2 separate regions of the Homo sapiens genome follow, and region 1 is linked to region 2. The links come from fine-mapping of genetic effects on gene expression. A gene starts in region 2. The other region holds a variant in brackets. All regions are shown on one strand. Distances are from middle to middle. Region 1 overlaps FAM3D-AS1 (FAM3D antisense RNA 1). Region 2 holds the start of KCTD6 (potassium channel tetramerization domain containing 6).

Evidence for each region. PIP is the estimated chance that this variant, and not a neighbour inherited with it, causes the effect.
Region 1: its variant is fine-mapped to the expression of KCTD6 in cerebellum (GTEx, PIP above 0.99).

Annotation. Positions count from the first base shown.
Region 1 is chr3:58,607,237-58,610,141 of GRCh38, reverse strand. It overlaps FAM3D-AS1 (FAM3D antisense RNA 1), which reads right to left. Exons shown (of 4, transcript NR_134853.1): 2 at 2,197-2,460. It also overlaps a transcript of FAM107A not described here. Among named protein-coding and RNA genes, the nearest start is that of FAM3D-AS1, 1.6 kb to the right of the region's middle. The variant A/G (reference allele first, on the strand shown) is at 1,214.
Region 2 is chr3:58,490,326-58,493,230 of GRCh38, reverse strand. KCTD6 (potassium channel tetramerization domain containing 6) reads right to left here and starts at 1,135. Exons shown (of 3, transcript NM_001128214.2): 1 at 1,062-1,135. RefSeq lists a silencer at 835-1,484.

The sequences.
Region 1 (2,905 bases), 120 kb before region 2:
GGAAGTGGTTGTCATTGGTGCTGTTGTCATTTCTATCCTGCACGTAATTCAGCTGCTGTCTCCTCAGGTCCATTACAAATCAGTCTCCAGAAGGGAATGGCCTCACACGGCCTATCTGCAACTAGTAATGATCATGATGTGCTGGCCATCTTGTCAGTAATGTGCACTTCCTGCACACTGTATGCCAAGTGCCATTCTAAGCACTTTACATATTAACCAGCCAAGAAATAACCCCAGAAGAGAACAGCTGCCTCCTGCCCCGACCCTCTAGGGAGGAGACAGGGGTCAAGAAGCCATGCCTAGGCCAACCCATGTGTACAAGACCTGCTGTAGGAAGAGGTCACAGATGGCCTCATGGGGGGATTCTGGGCCCCGACTTTGGTCCCATATCCATGTGAGGAACCCAAAAAATGACTTTCCCTCCTCCACGACCCCCTAGGTGGCTCTGAGGACTCAGCGAAGTCATTGCCAGAGGTCTTGAAAAACAAAAAGCGGCTGTAGGAGATGTTGGGGGAAACCTTCCTCCATGCCACCCTAGGGCCTAGGGCAGTGCTCACAGTGTTTGTTGACTGACTAATATTTGTTGACTGTAAGTGATGGTTCCATTTTTAGAGCATAGCAGCTCAGGCACTAAGCTGTACCAGCCATTTTTTCATATGTGTATAAGAAGAAGACTAGAAAAATAAATACCAAACATTAATGCTAATTATCTTAATTGAGGAAGGGGCAATGGGGTGAGGAGGGGAGATATCATGGTCACTTTTGTATTTTTTTCCACTTTCTACATTGTCTACAGTGAGCATTGCCTACATTGTCTACAATTAATTTTATAGTCAGTAGAAAACAAACATTTCTGTAAATTTATGATTTACCTCATTTTACAGAAAAAGAAATGAAGGCCCAGACACGTTACGCCATTTGCCCAAGACCACACAGCCAGAAGAGAGTGGCTGGGATGGACCTATACCTGCCATCTCTTCACCTGCATCTGCTGGGAACCCCATCCCTCAGCACTGGGGCCATTTCCAGCTCCTGCATCATGGGGCCTCCTTGTCCCCTTTCCCATGACCAGGCCCTGAAAATGCTCCCACCCCAATCCTGCCAGCTCCCCCAACTCCTGAGAAAGTCCCCTCTGAGAGCCAAGAGTCCCTGCAGATCTCAGGAAGGTGTCCAGGGGAAAGAGATGCATGCAAAGCCCCATTCCAGCTCTGCC[A/G]ACTCACTGCTTATTCATTAATAAAAGAATGCCCAGGCTATTTTGGGCACCTGTAATTTTCTACTTGAATAACCAGGAAAGTGGCTGCCTGCCCGCTCCTCTGCCCTGCTTATGGCACCAGAACAGGGGAAACGCGATCTTGCCTGGCGTAATGGGATCTGGGCGAGGTCTCACTGCTGATTTCCTTGCCTTTGCCTCATTCCAGAAAGCCCAGGTGTCCCCCATGCCACCTCCAAGGGGGTCTGGGGAAGGAGAATCCAGGCCAAGTTTGGATGTTGTGGACTAGGTGGTTTCTTCCAGCTCCAGAAGGCAAATCCCAGCTCTGCCACTTGCCAGCTGTGGGACTTTGGCCCCAGCTTCTCTATCTGTAAAATGGGGATAACTATACCACCTTGCAGGTTTGGTCCAGGGGAGCTGCCTGGCTCTTAGGGTAATTGTTGCTGTTGCTGTTATTGTTATTCCATAGATAAGGAAGGAGTTGTTCTGGGAAAAGATCTGGCCTAGGAGGCTTAGGATCTCTCATTTGGCTCTACTGCTGACTAGCTATGTGACCTTAGACAAGCCCATTTCCTTCTTATTTTAAGCAAAATTGTTCTTTCTGTTTATCAAGGTAATTCATGATCATTATTGAAAATTTAGAAAAATGAATGACGAAAATTAAAAATCAGGGTAACTCTTAACTACTATTTATTGAGCACCTACTCTGTGCCAGGCCCCATGTTAGGTGCTTTCTATTTATTATCTCTAATTCTCCCAAGTCTGCACCCATTTGTAGATGAGAAAACTGGAGCTCAGTGTGGTGATGTGACTCATGCAAGGTCACACAACTGGTAAGTAGAGCAGAAATCACACCCAAGTCTTTCATTCTTCAAAGTCTGTTGGTTTGGTTTTCTATTGCTGCGTAACAAGTGACCACAAAATCAGTGGCTGAAAACCACACACATATCACAGTTTCCCTTGGCAGGAGTCTGGGCACCGCTTACCTGGTCCTCTTCTCAGACTCTCACAAGCTGCAGTCAAGGCATGAGTTGAACTGTGTTCTCATTCAGAGGCTCGACTGAGAAAGAGTTCACTTCCGTGCTCATTCAGGCTGTTGGCAGAATTTATTTCCTTGCAGTTGTAGAACAGAAGGCCCCAGAGGTTTGCTGCTTGCTTGTTGGAGGCTGCCCTCAGGTCCTAAGAGGCCACCCAGTTTCTTGAGGCTGCCCGCAGCTCCTTGCCATGGGGGCACCTTACCTAGCTGCTAACTTCATTGAGCCAGCAAGGAGAATCTCTTGTTAGTGTATGCTAGCAGGACAGAGTCACATGTACATGCACACGTATACACACATACATGCACACGTATACACACATACATGCACATATACAAATCCATCTAGCATGATCATGGGAGTGACACACCCTCACCTTTGCCATATTCTATTGTTAAAATAGCTCCCACCCACCCTCTACTCTGGAGAGGTAGAGGACCACACCAAAGGGTCAGCACAGGGGTGAGAGTCATGGAGGCCACCTAGGGGTCTGTCTCCCACACCCACACTCTTCCCACCACAGCCAGCTCCCCTTTCCTCAACAACATCCTCACCCTCACCCTCCAGGAGAAAACTCCACTCTAGGTTGGCAACTGCAAAGTTAGCTCCATGTTACAAACATCGTGGCATATCCTGGACCAAGGAAATGGAGCCTCATGGA
Region 2 (2,905 bases):
AGAAAATACTCTCAACCTACCAACCCTGCTGACAAACACATTTTCCTTTTCCTAGCTACATATTCGTTCATTTGAAAACATCTCAATCTTGGGCTCAGGACTGTGCTACATGCTGTCCCCAAGCTTCTCTCCTATCCCAGGATGATTCAAGTAATAGGGCATTTGTGACAGCGAAAAAAAGAACATGCCAGGGGGATATAGAAGAGATACTTAGGCTACCCCAAATATTCTTAGCCGAGCCGGGTCATCCCAGGTCACTTTGCCACCCAAACCTCTTCTATCACAAAGTCCTAAAATTGGATCCATCAACTTGTTCTAGAACTGGTATACTTGAACAGAAACATGGTAACTTCGGCAGAATATCCAAACAGGATCTCTGTCACGTTTCATTTCCCCGTCCCACCCCCAGACACAGCCTCCACCACTGTCAGCCCAGCAGGTGCTGCCAGGGCTCCCCATTACCATGGCCATTTATCACCTCTGACATCAAGCATTAAAAACGCCACCACACACACACAAATCTAGGCATAAAGAACTCAGCTGCGATCTGAGAGTCTCTTCAGGGCAGAAAATCCCAAAGGCAGGGTTTTGAGTCCTGCCTCAAGCTTTAAACTAGGGCAATTGGTGGCTAATAAGCGCCATCTCCCAAAAACAATCATTTTCGAGCACACCCCAAATATCTCCGTCCGGGCCGCCCTTCGCTGCTGCCCCGCCAGCGAAGCCCCCGCAACCCGACCCGGCCAGGGGTAGGGCGGGCGATGCTCCGGGCCCGGACGAGGGGCGCGCCGCGGGGCTCCGAACCCGGGCCCGCAGAAACCGCGCATCCCCGCCGGGCGGGCCCCGGAACCCCCGCCCAGGCCCCGCCGCGGGCACCTCCGCTGCTGGCTCGTGCCAGCCCGGGACGCGCGGTCCCCTCAACGCGGCCCCGCCGCCGCCCCGTTCCAGGAGCCCCCGCCCAGATCCTCCTCAGCCCCGCTCCCCTGGCCGCTCGGCGCAGACGTCTCCTGAAACCCGGCCCTCCCAAACCCCGGCCCCGCAAGCCCCGCGCCAGCCCCACTCACTGCGCGGCGGCGGCGGCTGCTGCGGCCGGGCCGGGAGATGCCCGCGGCCGGAGAGCGCGAGCGCGGGGACAAGCGAGCCCGCGCCCGGCGACGGCGGCGGCGGCGGCGGCAGAGGGGACGACTGAGCCCGCGCCCGGAGTTGCGGCTCCAGCTGCCCGGCGCGGGCGGCGCCTTCCCAGCAGAGCCGCGGCGCCACGAGCGCGGGCGCCCCCTAACGGCAGCGCGGGCTGGAAGCCAGAGAGCGGGCGGCCTGAGGAACTCAGCCAGCGCAGTCGGAGCCGCGCGGTCAAGACCACACGACCGCAGCCCCGAAGCCCCGCCCCGAAGCCCCAGTCCCGCCCCTTAGGCTCCGCTCCGAAGCCCCGAAACCCCGCCCCTACGTCCCGCCTCCGCCCGCAGCCTGGGGTCCGCCCAACCCCAGGCCCACTGCGTCCTCAGGGGTGGTGCCTCCACAGCTGTTTCTCCTTAGTCATTTCACGAACTTGTATGGGCCCCCCACTATATCTCAGGCCTGGGGGTTTAGGAGATACAGCGGCCACCAAGACGGAGGCGGGTCCTAATCAAAGGAGAAGACAGACAAGACTCAAGGAAACAGCTAATAGACAAAATAATGACAAGTTATGGCCGTAAGTGTTGGGAGGGACATGATTAGAGGACTTAGATGGAGAAGAAGGGAAGGGAGCCCCTGCTCCAAACGCAGTGGCCGAGGAAGACCTGGACCCCGACCTGCGGCCAGAGCTCCTCCTGCCTGCCCTGCATTGGGGAGACAACCCTGCGATGAGGCCTGTGAAGAAGCCCCCGGGGCCACCGGGGCAAGACGGTCTGGTCCGGCCTGACGGGCAAGACAGCAAAGGGCTGCTGGGCCCAGAAGCTCAGCAACACGGGCAGCCAGGTGGAGAGAAGGGCAGAGCTACCTTCAGCAGACAAAACGACCCATGCAAAGGCTCTGGGGCCTGGAGGAGCTCGACCCTAGATGAGACTGGCGCTGGTATTGTCCCCACTTCACCAGGAAGGAAGCCAAGGCTGCAGAGGATGGGCAGCACCTAACGCCTCAGGGCTAATTGGTCTCCATCCGTCCACTCGTTCCAAGTCCATTCACTTCCTGCTAGCCAGGCCACTGTCCCCTTCCGGTGGGACCAGTTACCTGATGCTGGGTTTAACCTTCTCCACCAGAATAACCACTGGCCTTAGAAACTCACTTGGGTTTCACGTCTGCATGTGTGTGAGCTAGCTCTGGGGTTGAAATTGTATCAGCATGATCATCACAGTTATATCTGATACTTGATTTGTCTCCAAAAGCTCAAATTGATAGGTTAAATAAATGACATATGCTTCATCAACATAACTGAGTGCTACATTATCAAATTCACAAAGACTAGGTGAGAATACAGGGAAATGTGTGTGAAAATGATCAATACACAAACTAGTACACATGATATCCTGATTTTATTTTTAAAAACATAAATATATACAGACAAAAATTTTGAAGGAAATACATCAAACCATTGACCATCGTGTTCAAGATAACAGTATGGGAATGTTAATGGCATTACTTCATAACGTTCTTCTGAATTTTCATGAATATTGAATTTATAATCAGAACACATAAATATTGAATTTATAATCAGAAAAATACAATGAGTTTTGGTTTGGTTTTTCTTTTTTTTTTTTTTTGCCCCCCACTCCTCCCCACCCCACTGGGTTTTGTTGTTTTTTAATAGAAGGACAATACCAAAATTACCCAATACTCAGATCTCCAGAATTTGGTGCCACTGAAAACCCAGAATTGCCTCTGATTTACTGGGTATCCTTGAAAGAGTCATTTCCCCTCTCAGGGCTTCTAT